Regions from separate parts of the Homo sapiens genome. Here regions 1 and 2 are each reported to be linked to region 3. Evidence: microRNA targets listed by miRTarBase, many of them from high-throughput screens and not tested one by one. Region 3 holds a microRNA gene; each other region holds the end of a gene's coding sequence.

Region 1 (5,065 bases), not on the chromosome of region 3:
ATTGGAAGCAGCTGGTGATAAACCTAAGGCATATGCCTAACATACAATATCAGCAGGTCAGAAAGGGAAACAAACTTAGGCTGTGGCAACTTTTACTACCAGCGTGAACAACCAGCATTTTTATTGCATTTGAGAATGCTTATAATGTCAGTAATTAGTACTGACTACACAACATTTTTTTTATTGTCTGTATCCGCAGACATGGAATGATGGAATTACAGTTGATGTCAAGGAATGAGTTTCTTTTATGCCTTATCAAAACAAAACAAAACAAAACAAAAAAATTCTTGTTACTGGCAGCACATATACATGAAGCACCATGCTCACAGTCCGGACTGTATCATCTTCATCAAGGCTTATGGGTAGCAGAGATTGCGTGAGCTACACTGGGCCCAAGAAATGCCTTCAGCATTGTAAATCTGATTTTCAGGATAAAGAAGCAAAACTGACTTTGAAGACATCCAGAATTTCAGGAGGCTATGTCATTAACCAAAAGGTACCAAAAAGATTCAAAATCTGAATAAGCACACTCTTCTTTGTGCCTTTGGAAACGGAGTTCAGCTGGAATATGGAAAAGAGAGGAAATATTTTTTAACTCTATTTTTTTTCATGAGGAAAAAAAAGCTAGTGATTTACAGCCTATCTTGGGTTAAGAATCCAAGGTTTTCTTTACTAGGTCTGACTGGATGCTGGGGATGGTGTTAGAGCTGTCCAAAGGTGGCAGGACTGGTGGTAACTCTTCACGTATGTACATAAGCCTTGATATTCCATTTTGTGGCTGGTCCAAGGGGCAGCCTAACTCATCTTACAAGACGGACTCTAGGGACAGGTAGGTTGGATCCTCATTCCTGACAGTGCATTTGTCTGACACACGGGACTACCTCCCTAATGTATGCTTTTCTTTGAGAAAAAAAAAGTAACAGATTTTCTTTACATCTTGGCACCTTGTAAAGTTTTTTTTTTTTTATACAAAAGTTCAATAGTTTTGACACTCCCCATTGTTAATCACTACTTCACTGATAAACTTGGAAAAGTGTGACCCTGGAATTTCATCATGCAAAATATTTACTGCAGCAGGAGAAAACATTTTTTAAACAACATTTTTTTTTCTTTTCAAATGTATGAACTTGTTTAAGATAGCCAGGAAGGCAGTGGTAGGATAAACACAAGGGATAGGAATGTATCAAAAAACAGATTAACACACACGCACGCGCGCACACACACACACACACACACACAAAACCTGTACAAAATGCTCCAATCAATGAGAACAGAAAAAAGAAATCTTCAACTATGTTACAGTTTAAAAGCAGAAAAAAAAAGTTAGGGAGTTTCTCCCTCCCACATGTCAGGAAATGTCATCCAATATTCTTAAAGCAAGGATAACTAAATAAAATACATGTGCAGCATATTCTGCAATTCCGTTACATACAGTAGTTTTTTTTCCAAAGCTATTTTTTTTTAGTATCGTTAATATAAAGCAGTTGCACAAAAAGCAAAGGTGTTTTGACAAACAGGTGTATGCATTTATTCCTTTTTAGGAACAATATCTAAAAAAAGAACCGCCCTCTGCCCTCCCCCAAAAAAGACAAAGATTCACACAGACACATCGGGATATATGTACAACGTAATAAACCCCATCCTAAAGAAGCAACTGGGATAACCCCCAGGGGATACAGAATCAGAATTGTAAAAATCATAGTGAAGTTTGCTTGCTGTAAAGCCTGAGAATTTTTTTTTCAGTTGGTTCTTCTGCAAGGCTGTGATACCTGCAAAGATATGTAAAATCTAATTTTTCTTTTTTTTTTTTTTTTGCTACAGTCTTTAGACTAAGCATGCAAGACATACGACTAAGTGCAACTGAGTGAAATGTTTTTTTTTTAAATTTTAATCATTCCCTAAAGGTTTGAACTGAGGTATGCGTACTAACAGTTTCTCATGCTGTTATCTTTACTCATGTCTAGCTACACATGCTGAGAATGAACTAATCTACCAGATTTTTATCCTCTTTTGAATACCAAACTAACCAGCAACCACTCAGTTTAGAAGCACAGGGCCCCCTTCCCATGACCCTGTCTGGCTACTGCCTGCACATCATGAAGCTGCCTGGAAAAGTTTTTTTTTTTTTTTTTTTTTTTTTTTTTTTTTTTTTTTTTAAAGTCTTGCGTGACCACAGACTGCCCTTTATACAGAAAGCAGAGTGAAGCTTCAAAAGTAACTGCCAGAGAAGTTTTTGTACCAAGCTTATGAGTGGATGGGAGTGTTACTTTTCTTTAAATGAAAAATGCTGACCAAAGCCTAATCGGAAAAAAAGGAAAAATTAAAAATAAAAACAAACTGAAGGATATATGCCAAGATAAACCAAAATTAATACAGTGATCACAGCACAGTTCTTAAACAAAAGTGGCATACAATCTAAAAATATCTCTTTTTCTAGAAATACTATTATGTAATCTAGTTCAATTATGGAAGCTTTTCTGTCCTGACTCTAAACTGTCTCCTTTATTGGATACTCTAATTGCAGTGGCATACATTCATTTTTTTTTTGAGATGGGACTCCCTTCCTTCTGTAGCTCCTTTAATATTGTGTCCTATTTTTATCTGCAGTAGCCCCATAAAATCTCTTTAAGAGAATGAGTTTTGGTCTCTGTAGAGGTACACAAAAAGAAAAAGGAAAAATAACTACTAGAAAAAAGTAACAACTTTGGTTCCATTATCTACTTGGTCTTCTAAATTTACGATGAAGGAGCAGTTCTCTTTCTCAGGTTGCAATAGCCTATCGCTTGTCATTTGCCTCTAAATTCTTTTGCCTCCTTTGATCAACAATAAGAGGATATTTGGCTTCATCAGATAAAGCATAAAACAGAGAACATAATTTACCTTTGTGTAATATCTTTGGTAATTTTAGAAAAAAGGTACAAAGAAAGAATATAAATTAAGCTTCGAAAGGCTCTCGAACTAAAAAAAACTACAGTCCTATATAAATAAATGACAGGAAAGTGGGTGCAGAGCTGAAGTGTGGAGGGGTTCTAAGGACTGAGGTTGTACTGACCTGTAACCATCACATTTCTGCATACCATGTTTGGGACCCCCCCAAAGCCCAGGGCCTACATGATATCTTCTATGAGTTTTTGTGATACTGGGTTGGTGATATAATATTGCATAACAAACTGCAGTACCAAATTTGCATATTTGAAATTAACACTTTAGCATTTGCTGAACTCAGCCCTCGTTAACTCCCTTAACAAGTTCAATCTGAAATCGAATTTGCATTCAAACAGTTTAATGCCACCAAGTAGGTCTGAACTAATGTATAAACTCAGCGCCGCCGCCGCCACCCCTACTTTCAGGGCAGCTGCTCGGGGAAGCCGGTTTTTTTTTTTGGCCATTTTGCAAACAAAACCAACCCACACCCGTTATCGCAGAGCACCCAAGGCCCATGGCAACTTGGTTCCACAAGGGAGAGCCTTCCAAGGCCATATTGTCAGTCTAATTAATATGAGCTTTTTTTTTTTTTTCAGTGCTGCCTATGTTTCCTTGTGCTGGTAGAATGTGGTGGCATTTATTAATGGTTGCTGCAAAAAAAAAAAAAGAAAAGAAAAGAAAAAAAGAAAATCCGAAACACCCCTCCCCCGAACCACCCCCAATACTGCTGCGTGGAATGAATCGGCATTGTTCCTAGAGTTTGTCTCTCTTTTTTTTTTCTGTCATTCATTCTCTTTCTGGCAGGACGTCACGTCTGTGTGAGAGGGCCTTCATGTGTAGAGTGCAGCATTTGGGACCTTTTTGAAAAAGACCAAAACGGAATGTTTTCTGACTTTAGAGAAACGTGGTGATGTCTGAAGGAAGATGGAATGAGTGACAGAAAGCTACAAACGAGAAATGACATTCAGCTTTGTATAATAAAAACACCTATTAACATTCATCACAAGGTACAGAAAACTTTAAGCCTCCAAGAGGCCATCGGCCCAAATGGAGGCCTGAGGTCAGAACTTAAAATGGTATAGTAGAAGGAAAAAAAAAAAAAAAAAAAGCAATACATTAAAAAGTTTGGGATAATTATTTTTTAACCCCTCCCCCCAATACACACACAAAGGCCTTCCCCATCCCAACTGGAAGCAAAAAAAAAAAAAAAAAAAAAAAAAAAAAAGGAGTAAAGGCAGTGATAATCAACATGCAGTACTGTGCAAATAGGTCGTCCATTGGAATCCTTAAATTCTGGGCAAAGGCTTGGTCTGCAGCTTAGGTGCACAAGCTCTGTCGGGCGTCCTCAGTGTCCAACGTTGGCAGGACTGCAGTTCAAAGTCTGCTGCTAAAAGTGAATCAGTTTAGCAAATTTACAACACTGATGTTGACGGTTAAGAGAGGAAAATCCCAAGTACCAAACAAGTCCATCCAATGCACAGAGTACAAATTCCTTTTTTCAACAAAAAGTAGAAAAATCAAAAATACTCCCAAATGGGGTTCTTGATGGCACTAAGAGTTAACACATTTCAGAGTTGTCAAAACGTAGTGAAAATCCTCCAGACTGTACAACAAATGGAGAACAATTTCACTGCTAACTTTTGACGTGTTTTTTTTTTTTTCCTTTTTCCAATCTTCATTCTCGGGGTTGGCCCGCCCCGATAGTCACTCCATGTCCTCGTTTACTGGTTCATCTTCGTAATCTCTGTCATGGTCAAAATCTGGACTGTGGTTGGCTGTTGTCACTAAGGACAGGGGCCCTTCAGCTTCCTCTGGATCGAGGGGCTCTTCTTTGACGTGTACAGGATGCCTGGAAAAAATATGCAGAGGTTCAGTGAGGGTACTTCCCAGCCCATTGCAGCTCAGGTGCACTGAAAAGTTTGGGGCAACAGAAAAGCCGCACTCTAGAACTAGAACTCTGTCCAGTATTGTTACCATTAGCCACACGTGGCTCTTTAAATTGAAATGAACGAAATCTTACTACATTTAATATTCAGTTTCTGAGTTGTGCTAGCCACATTTATGTTCAAAGGCCCCATGTGACTAGCGGTTAATTCTGGCCAGCACAGAGACAGACGGAACATTTGCATCACTGCGTAAA
Region 2 (5,065 bases), not on the chromosome of region 3:
GGCAAAGCCTCAGCCCCAAAGTCCCCCTCCTCCTAGCCTCCTGTCTGAGCTCCCCCAGCCTAGGGACCGCGGGGAGGCTGGGCCGGGGTCTGGGACGTGCAGTGGTGCAGGGGTGGGGGCAGCAGGAAACGCGTTGGCGTGAAAGGACGGGTGCACGTGAGCGTGCCCGTGCCGGGGGTCCACGTGCGGCGCCCCGGGGCTCGCCCCCTCTTCCGTCCAGGCCCCGCCGCAGCCGTCAGACCCTCGGCTGCGCCTCCCGCCCCCAACTTTGCAGACGCGCGGGGAGAGAGGCGGGGCTGCAGCGCCTCCGCGCTTGCGCCTGCGCACTCGGCGCTGCCGGGCTGAAGTCCCGCCTTCTGGAGGCTTCGTCGCGCTGCTACTGGGGCACGCCGATGAGCGAGCGGTGCGATCACCAATGAGGCTTCCCCGCTGGTGGGCGGGGCCTGGGCCGCGCGACGCGCGGACGGGGGCGGGCAGGGCGCCCTACCCGGGGTGACGTCAGGCTCCTTTCGCGGCGCGTTGCCCTGGAAACCGCGTTTCCATCCCGGCGGGTTTCCGGGGGCCGCCCCCTCCCATTCAGCTTTTTCCTCAATGGTTGGGGGAAGGGAGCGATCCAGGGCCGACCCCGCCCCGCGAGATCCCAGCGGTCCCTGCCCTCTTTGTGCCTCAGTTTACCTCTCCGTGCTTCCCTACGCACACTTGGCCTCCGCCTGCCGCCCCTCCGCCCGCTGCACCCCTGGTTGGGCTGACCCTACCAGGCCAGGGCTCTGAGCCTGGAGCTCCATACCCCACCCCACGCCCCCAGGGCACAGCCTTGACCCCTGGGATCCCCAGTCTGGGGTGGGGGTCGGCATCCCGAGGGGCGGGTCCTGGAGTGCAGGGGACGCGCCCCCCACCCTGCAGGCTACAGACACAGCCCCTGTGATTCAGCAGGTGCTTCAGACAACATCCTCCTTCCTCCTTCCCACCCCGCCCAGCGAGGGGGCGGTGGCGCCCTGGGGCCCTCGCCTTGACCCCAGGCCTGGCGTCGGTGACCCGCACCCCCACCCTGAGCCCCGAGGGGACATCCGCACCAGGGACGGGGCGGGGGGTGGGTGCCGCCTGACTGGGCATCCGCCTTCCTGCCGTGGGCGTGCGATGATTTGGGGTTGACTGGGCGTTGGGAGGGGCAGAGGGGTCTCAGGAAGGTGCTCCCAGGCCACTCTCTGAACCTGTGCCCCTTCCCCTGGGGGCTCCCGGTACTGGGGCCCCTAGAGATGGGATAAGGGGTGGAGGTCACATCATTGAACAAACACCCCAAATCCTCTGGGCCAAGTGATGTTCCTCTTTGGGCCTCTGTTCTCCCATCTATAAAATGGGAGCCCAATTACTTCTCATAGGCAACTCTTGTTACCTGAGGAAATACAGGTTACAAAATTTAAAAAAAGACATGAAATAGTGTTATTGCCTCATCTCTGCCCAGCCCGGACATGGGTGGAGGTGGGACCCCAGAGAGGACTCAGTCCTGGTGAGGCTCACGGGGAGCTCCAGGCTAGGGACAGAGAGAGGGAAGGGTGGGGTCTGCGGGACGGGGTGGACAGGGGTGGAAGGCGCAGGCTGGGGAAGTTCCCAGACAGCAAGGGACAGCCGGACCAGGGGTGTTCCTAGACAGGGGGCAAAGGCCGGGAGGTTTGGAGCTGAAGGCCAGGTCTGGGAAGGGCTGGAATGTCAGGAGGTGTGGCCAGAGAGGCCCCCCAGGGCTGGGTCAAGCCAGGCCTGTATCACCTGCCAGCCCAAGGTACCCTGCGGAGTCCTAGGTCCTCCCAGTCGGCCTGGTGATCTCCCTGCAGCAAGCCACACAGATGTGAGACTCCAGGAAGGGGAGCAGGTGGGTGTGGCAGAGTGGGAGTCCCCGACTCCTGTGGCTGGGGAGAGCTGGTGGTCGCGTCTCCCCCATACTGGCAGGTCCTGAGGGGGCCAGGGTCCTGCCCAGGCCACGAAGCAGGCAGGCAGGCCCTCGCCCCACACCCTAAGGGACTTCCGGCCTTGGGTACCAGGAAGTGGCTGGGCTCCTCCCTCCCACCCTGGCTGCTTCCTGCCCACCCGGCAGCCGGGGAAGGAGCGTGGGAAATTCTCAGGGCCCTGACCCCTGCCCCACCCCCTCTTCGGGGCCTTGGGACCCAGGTCAGTCCCTCTGACTCCCTGAGCTGACATCCCACCCCAGGAACCCTCCCAACCAAGGCCAGATCCCCCCACTAGGCGAGCAGGCGGGAGTCAATGTGTGTTTCATTTTCTGTTTATTACTTGAAATCACGGTGCTCGTGTAGGTTTTTTTTTTTTTTTCAATTTTATGTTTTCATACATGAAACTCACGCCAGGTGCCGGGACCCCCACAGCCCGACCCCCCGAGGGCGGGTAATGCTTTCTTGGGCAGCCCTTACCGGGCAGAGGGTGGCGAGCCGGTTCCTGCCTGGAGGTTCCACCCTCAACCAGTGGAGGCACAGACGTTATTTAAAAATCGTTAAAAAACAAAACAGAACACACATTTAAATAGGTATCCAAGACAGTTCTTCAAAAAACAAACCCGCCCCTTTTACTCCTTTTTTTTCTATTTTTTTTTCTTTTTTTTTTGGAAAAATGAAAACAAAACAAAACCCAAAATCCTTGAGCTCTACCCTCTGGGACCCCTCCCTGCCCACCCTCCCACAAAAAAATTTACAGCGCTACAGTTATAACACGTGATGTTCACATCTGAAACCATTAACTTTCAACACATAAAGGGGGGGAGTTGAGGACCTGGGGTTCACCTACGAGAACAACGGTGGGGGACAGGCAGAGCCAGGACAAGACCGACAGGTGGGGTGAGGAAGGGTCCAGACATCTCCATTATCATTAAAAAATAAAAAGTGAGTGGGGAAAAAAATCCAAAAACTACCCCATTGAAATGGCCCCAGTAGGGGATTTGTCCCTCCCCTCTGGAGACAGACACCCCTAGGGCAGGGGCACTGAGAGGCAGGGGGTCCAAATTAGACCAGCAGCGGACCCCGCCACGGGGGTTAATGCTACACGGAGTTGTCGCCCCCTGCCCAGGGGATTCACAGCTCAGCACCCCCTCCCATCCTCGCTGCAGGAGGGGCCCCCAGACAGTCCCAAATCCACATCCCTCAGGTTGGGCCGGGAAGGAGGGCTCGGAGGGGGGAACTCCCCAGCACCCAGCCATTCTCTCCCCTTTTTCAAGAGTTCCCCAACCACTATTGGCTCAGTCAGAAAATTAATAGTCTATAAATACCCCAAACTCAGGCAGGAGGTCAGAAAACACGGGAGTGGGGGCGGAGGAAACAGCACAGTCCGCCGGCTGGGGCGGGGCGGAGGGCAGGCTGGGGGGGTAGTTCCCCTCTCCCTTCCCGACAGGAAAGGGTGCCATGCCCCTGCACCCAAACCCCATGGGGACCTCAGCCCCAGCCTCTGCTAAAACAGCTTTGCTCTCCTTGTTAAAGAAATGAAGGAAAATGCAAAAAAAAGATCAAGAAAAGAGGATAGGAGTGGAAGAGAAACAGTCCCCTCGTTGGCTTCTGTGACCTGTTGGCTTGCTGTAGCCCAGTGGGCGCTGCTGGCCTGGGGTGGAGACCCCGAAGTCTGCACTGGGGGGTGGGGTGGGTTCTGCGCACTGCGGCCCCTCCCCTCATCTGTAAAGTGCATAATGACATATCGACATTTTTGACTTAAAACCTGAATAGGGTCGGGGGGGAAAGGAGGCGGCGGAAGGGATGGGGCGCGTTTCTCCGTCTCCTTCACTCTCCGCCATCCAGAGAGACTGCTACATATTGGAGCTGGGGAAGGTTGGCAGGGAGGACCGACCTGGCGCAGAGGTGAAAGGAGACAGACGGAGGAGGAGGAGGAGGAGGAAGAGGAGGGCAGGAGTGAAGGGTGAAGGAGGTAGGAAGCAAAGCCCATGAAGAGTCCAGGAAACCACGGTCAGAACTTTTTAAAAAAAGAAAAAAATAATAAAAAAGAAGAAAAGAAAAAAAGACTTCTGGCTGGGGGAGTGGCCGCCTGCCCTCCAGGGCTGGGCCACGTTCTCTCCGGGGCTCTCGGAGTCCCCGCCGCCCTGGGCTGGGGTGCGAGGGGCGAGGGTGGCCGATCCGAAGATCCTAAGCCACCACGAACTCTGACTTGATGTCAGGGTTGACTTCTGGCTTCCACACGGAGTCCTCGAAGTCGAGGCCCAAGCCGGAGGCCTCGCTGGGGCTGCCGCCGCCCCCGCTGCTACTGCTGTCGCTGCGGCCGGCCTTGCGGCTGGGTGACCAGTGGTACGGACCCCGCGCGTCCCGCCGGGCCTTTCTACGGAGCCGTTTCTGCTGCAGAAGCAGCTGCAGCCGTTCCACCTTGCAGCGCGTGGCGCGGTTTTCTGTCTGCCGAAGCCGGTCCCCTGCAAAGGAGGTAGTGGCCTGTGACTCCCAAAGCCTCCACCTGCTGAACACAGAGGACCACCCCAGACCCCAGCAAATGCCCCTGAGGTCAGACACAGTCCTGCCCTCCCTGGAGGGAGGTCAGCAAAGGAAACAGTCAAGGACATCCACCATGCCGGGCACAGTGGTTCACGCCTGTAATCTCAGCACTTTGGGAGGCCGAGGCAGGAGAATCGCTTGAGCTCAGGAGTTCGAGACAGGCCTGGGCAACCTCAGGAGTTCGAGACAGGCCTGAGCCACAGAGCGAGACCCCTCCTCTACAAAAATTACAAAATTAGCTGGGCATGGTGGTGTTTGCCTGGAGTCCCAGCTACGCAGCTGGCTTCTAATTCTCCAGCTCAGCCATGAGCTGGGGAGGTCAGGACTGTCCTGCCTCATTCTTCCTGGAGTCCTACATGGAGGGGGCTTGGCCGCTTCTGTGATCCGAGGGGAGATACTTGGGGGTTGTACCTTGGTTTTTTTTTTTTTTTTTTGAGACGGAGTCTCGCTCTGTCGCCCAGGCTGGAGTGCAGTGGCGCGATCTCGGCTCACTGCAAGCTCCGCCTCTGGGTTCACGCCATTCTCCTGTCTCAGCCTCCCGAGTAGCTGGGACTACAGGCGCCCACCACCACGCCTGG
Region 3 (5,074 bases):
TCAGGATAGGTTCTTGGAAACTTCGGCTTTAAGCAGAATGAGGTACAGCAGGTCCTTGAATAACATCCTTTCTTTAAAACATTGATGAGAAAAAAAATTGGTTCCATTATAACGTTTCATTTAAAGTCACAGTTTCCAAGAACCCATTGATGACATTAAGTAAGGATTTTCTACACTAACATCATAGTAGTATTAGAAACACTTGTGGCTTTTTTCTGTATCTTCAATCCTACACTCTCATAACCTATTGCAGTTGTTTCAGATATGGCAAACAGTCTTTACACTCCTCACTCCTTCTGATATAGCTGTTACTAGGTCCTCCACTAGAACTTGCTATCTAATGCATTGAAAAAGCACATGTGACTATAATGCAGCTTTTTATTGACTATGTAAGTAAAGTCACTATCCTTTGTAATGCTGTTTGTTTCTTTATTTTAAAACATTCTGAGAAAGGGTCCATAAATCTTGTCAGACCACCAAAGGAGTTGATGGCACAGAAGAGGTAGAGATCCCATAGTTTAATTATGTCTACTTGAAATATTATCAGATTACCATTTAGGTGCCGCTGTATCTAAAGATGGCCCTTCTAGATTACACCCACTTTCTACCTACCGCCAAGGCAATTACCTCCATTTGACAGACAGAGACTCTTTATGGTAAGCCGACCAGATCGATTCTGCTTGTACCTAGAAGGGAGACGAGGAAACACACATGTAGCTGAGCAAACTTAAACCAGTGCACCGCTGAAAACGAGAGAAAAAGGATACAAACAGTCCAGAAACAATGTACTTTCCTAGCATCATAAGCTGAAGTCTGAAGCTCCACTGACCTGTAGAGAAGCTCCTGAGCAACAATATCTCCATAGTCATGAGAAAGAAGGTTGATCCTGCGGTTCTGGAGCCCCAGATGCCGCAAAAGCGCTTCCACGATGCTGGCCTGCTCAAATATGGAATAGTGATGTGGTCTCTGAGGAAAGGAAAGCCCACATACACAGGATGAAGTCATGAGGACAGCTCTCTCTGCCAGCCTGACCCTCATAGTCTGCGTCTGCCCCCACACCCCATCACCAGCCCCACATAGGTGCTGCTTACCGGTTTGTCACTGAAGCCAAAGCCTAAGAAATCAAGGGCAATCACCCGATGAAACCTCAAGGTCAGACCTTCCCAAATCTACAAGAAAGAAACGATGATTTGGGCTTTCTGCTCCTGCCCCTCCCTTTCACCAGACCTACAGTTGCACAGGAGCTTCAGCCCTATCTTGGCTTAACAGACTTCCATAAAGAGAAAACGCCATGAAACTACCACAGGTCCCACAGATGATCCTCTTGGAAAATGCTTTATTCCTGGTAATTAATCCCTGTTGAGGGAGGGTAACTTGGCAGTGATCCCTTCCAGAGTGCCAAGGAGTTGTTTATTCCCTTCAGTAAATAAGGAACAGTTCAACATTTAATGTTTTTTTAAAAGCAATTCAAATGTGCAAGAGCCTTCTGGTGCTGACAACAAAATCCTTGAGGTTTTTTAAATTTTTATTAAAAAAAAATTTTTTTTTGAGACAGACTCTCGCTCTGTCACCTAGGCTGAAGTGCAGTGGTGCAATCTCAGCTCACTGCAACCTCTGCCTCCCGGGTTCAAGCGATTCTCCTGCCTCAGCCTCCCAAGTAGCTGGGATTACAGGCTTGTGCCACCATGCCTGGCCAATTTTTATACTTTTAGTAGAGATGGGGTTTTGCCATGTTGGCCTGGCTGGTCTCAAACTCCTGACCTCAGGTCATCCTCCCACCTCAGCCTCCCAAAGTGCTAGGATTTGAGCCCCCGCGCCCGGCCGAGATTTTTTAAGACATAGTAGGACGTAGAAGTCTGACTTCATTACCTTGTACCAGTCGTAGCTGGATGTTGGAAAACCGTGTAAAAGCACAACTATCTCTGGACTTCCAACCACACCCACAGAGTCTAGGAAGAAGGAAAGTACAATCAATTATGCCAAATCCCTATAAAAATAACCTCGAAGATGTTAAAATCTAAGTAATCTGATACAAAGAACAAGCAACTGTGACCAAATTGACATTAAAATGACACAATTATTTGTAAAATGTAAGCTTAACTGCGTTAGGTGAGAACAGGCCTTTTCTCCTTTCAATCTGTATATTAAAACATTGTAAAAATCATGCTATGTGAAAATACTTGAAGGCACCTTGTTTACTTTCACCTAGGTGTTTTTAAACAGCATCTCCCCATTTCTCCTTTTGTTCTGTAATATGCAAATTTTTTCAGTGAAAAGTAAATTTTCAGTTAAAAGCATATGATCACAACACATAAACTACAAATTCTTTGTACTTTATCATGAATGGCCTCACAGAAATTCTCTAAGATACAGCAACTATTCCCAAGGAACACCTTTAGCTTATGCTGTTTGCTCAGCACTTTTTATTCAGCAGGAGACCCAATCTAACATCAAAAACATAATAAAACTATTACAAAATCCTGTCAACTATAAAAAGGGCTTAATCAACATAAACATGAACTTTTTTAATGCATATGACAATATGGAAGCATTCAGCATCATCTAAATTAGGTAAACATTTAGACAATATTAACCTTGCTAATAGTATGGGATTAGAACAGGTATATTCATATACTGCCAGTGACATGAAAATTTGGTAATAAGGTTTTCAAAAATAATTTAGAAGCAGTTAAAAATTGTATATACTTTAGCCTAAGAGTTTTGTTCTTGAGAATCTGTGCAAATAAAATCATTCCATTTATACAAGTAGTATAGTTTGAAAATGTAAGGAAAAAATAAACTGTATGGACATGAAGCTTTTACTTCAACATTAGTTTTCTAAAACAGTAAAACTGGAAGTAACCCAAGCCAACATAATAAAAATTGTATACTTACTTAATTGAATATAGCAAATGAGAGGAGGTCAGGAGCAATAATGAAAAACGGTTTATGACAAACATTTTTCGTTATTGCTCTTGACCCCCGCTCAAAACAAATCATTTCCAATCTGTTTCTCAGTTTCTTCACCTATAAAATGAGGTTAATGGCACCTATCTCCAAATGCTGTTGTAAAGATTAAACAATGAAGGCTGAAAACATAACTCAGTGCCTGGCATATGGTAATTACTTGATAAGTAGTGGTCATAATAATCATCATCACTAGCAAATTAATTTATATAATGGTATCAAGACTTAAATCACAGTTACACTACAAATAATCTACAGAAAAAATGAAATCAGGGATGGTAAGGAGAGAGAACCAATGGTGGTTATATCTATTAATATTTTATATATTACCTGACAGGTTGCTCAAAAAAAAAAAAAAACTAATATTGGAATACATATCAAGCTACAAAGAAAACTTATACTAAAAGGTAAGGTCTGCAGGTTGGAATCTCAGTCCCTACCCCCATTCTCCCAGCAGTTTTCTGCGCTTCTCTGCAAGCACACTACACAGAAAGAGAGAGAGATACTCTCCTCCATCATTAAGGAGCAACAAGAGACCAATAGCCACAAAATAAATACCTCAGCTGGGACTTATGTGACCGATACACGCAGGACTTCCAATAGTCCACTTCTTACCTTGGTAGAAGATACGCAGTCCCTTGTAAGTGAAAAACTTGCCTGAAGACTTCCATGAGTGAAGGGCAGGGGAGAGCTGAGGGGGTGGGATGTGCAGGTACGCAGCAAGCAGGGGCACGGCCAGCAGCCCCACCTGGACCCACCACTCCCTCATCCTGTAGGAAAAGCAGAGACCCACTGTAAGCAGTCAGGTAACATTGTCCACTCATCTACAAACCAAAACCTGGTAAGATGGGGTGGGAGATTGCTGTTACCATGCAATGATTACATTGCCCTTCACATAGGCACAAAGCTGACCGAGACTATAATCAAACCTCTGTCTGCCATAGCACTCACCATATTTGTTCATCATTCTAATCTTAAGGAAAAAAAATACATTATTTCAACATATAATCTTCTGCCTCTGCTCCCCGACTTTAACCCCTTAGCCCCTACCCTTGTGGTCTTCCCAATACCTGCTGAAGAGGACTTTATATAAATAAAAGGGACATGACTTAAATGCTGGACACTCTTTCGTTGACTTTTATCAAGGCTTCCCAGGAAAAAAATAACTTCTTTCTTATTTACTCCAAAAGCTCTACCATCTACCCACTACCCCCAACCAGTAAAATGTTCAAAAAATATATATGTGCTATATCTCATGTTTTAAAGAGTGTGTGTGTGTAGTAACTTATCACATGTCCTCAAGCAGAGAGCTACTCCTGATTTTCAGCCCTCCTGCCTAAATGAAGCCCCATTTAGTACTCCTTTCTGGATTTGGGCTGAGAAACTGCTCAGGGTAAACAGTCTGTGAAAGTAAGATAGCTGCACTGTGTATTCCAACATAAGCAGCTTTGTCATGACCCTGAATATCTAATCTCTTGAGAGGTCAAGGCGGTAGATTACATTTCTGCTTTTCTTAGCAGACTCTTTAAGTTTCCATTTAATTTCCTAAGATGCTCCCCCACCCCCAGATAAGGCATAACTCATACCCAGCGTGTGAGAATTGATTTTGTCTTTGGAAAAAGAGCACTGGTTGGTACACCCAACCCTCCCATGCCCAGGACTTCAAAGGCACAAGTCAGTTTATCCACATTGACAAGGAGTGCCAAACAGGAATTATAAACCGTTCTGTTTCAAGTCTATGACTTCTGATGGTCAACAGATCAAGAATTGTCAGTAGAATGGAAGTTCTCTCAAAACAGCCAGAATGGAAATAATACCCTCCAAAACTAAAATTAGAGTTGTCATAGAGCTGAAATAAATTAATTGCTAAAGCCCTGGGGGAAATGGCTTTCCGTCTGTACACACATTCTTCCCTATTGCCTGTAATCTACCTACCCGTTCGCTAACTTCCTCAACTTACAAGATACTTTTCCCCCCCATATCCCTGATACTTTTTGCTAAAATCTAAAAACAAGCCTGTGGTTTTACAGTGGTAAAATAACCATGTTTCTTAAACAATGTCAGCTCCCCAGGCTATTTTTTAGGCATTATTAGGGCAGTCATTTCT

What was found. The annotated mature microRNA hsa-miR-335-3p reads UUUUUCAUUAUUGCUCCUGACC and lies in region 3 at 2,922-2,943, opposite strand. An mRNA with a match to its seed (bases 2 to 7 or 8) in the 3' UTR can be bound and repressed. Matches are read on the target gene's strand: a 7mer-m8 pairs with bases 2 to 8, a 7mer-A1 pairs with bases 2 to 7 and ends in A, and an 8mer does both.
Region 1: the mRNA of FOXP1 is a reported target of hsa-miR-335-3p. Seed matches in the 3' UTR shown: 7mer-A1 at 4,420-4,426, 7mer-A1 at 3,514-3,520, 7mer-A1 at 1,736-1,742 and 8mer at 604-611.
Region 2: miRTarBase lists MIDN as a target of hsa-miR-335-3p. Seed matches in the 3' UTR shown: 7mer-A1 at 3,209-3,215, 7mer-m8 at 2,333-2,339 and 7mer-A1 at 2,318-2,324.

Annotation. Positions count from the first base shown.
Region 1 is chr3:70,954,618-70,959,682 of GRCh38, forward strand. It overlaps FOXP1 (forkhead box P1), which reads right to left. Exons shown (of 21, transcript NM_001349338.3): 21 at 91-4,774. The coding sequence ends at 4,630. Among named protein-coding and RNA genes, the nearest start is that of FOXP1-AS1, 330 kb to the right of the region's middle.
Region 2 is chr19:1,256,338-1,261,402 of GRCh38, reverse strand. It overlaps MIDN (midnolin), which reads right to left. Exons shown (of 9, transcript NM_001388306.1): 9 at 2,260-4,408. The coding sequence ends at 4,131. It also overlaps LOC107985303. Among named protein-coding and RNA genes, the nearest start is that of MIDN, 10 kb to the right of the region's middle. RefSeq lists enhancers at 1-32, 1,683-1,842, 2,263-2,412 and silencers at 73-312, 323-1,242.
Region 3 is chr7:130,494,031-130,499,104 of GRCh38, reverse strand. It overlaps MIR335 (microRNA 335), which reads right to left and starts at 2,994; the gene lies at 2,901-2,994. MEST (mesoderm specific transcript) reads right to left here. Exons shown (of 12, transcript NM_002402.4): 2 at 3,583-3,737; 3 at 1,870-1,949; 4 at 1,092-1,169; 5 at 830-966; 6 at 628-686.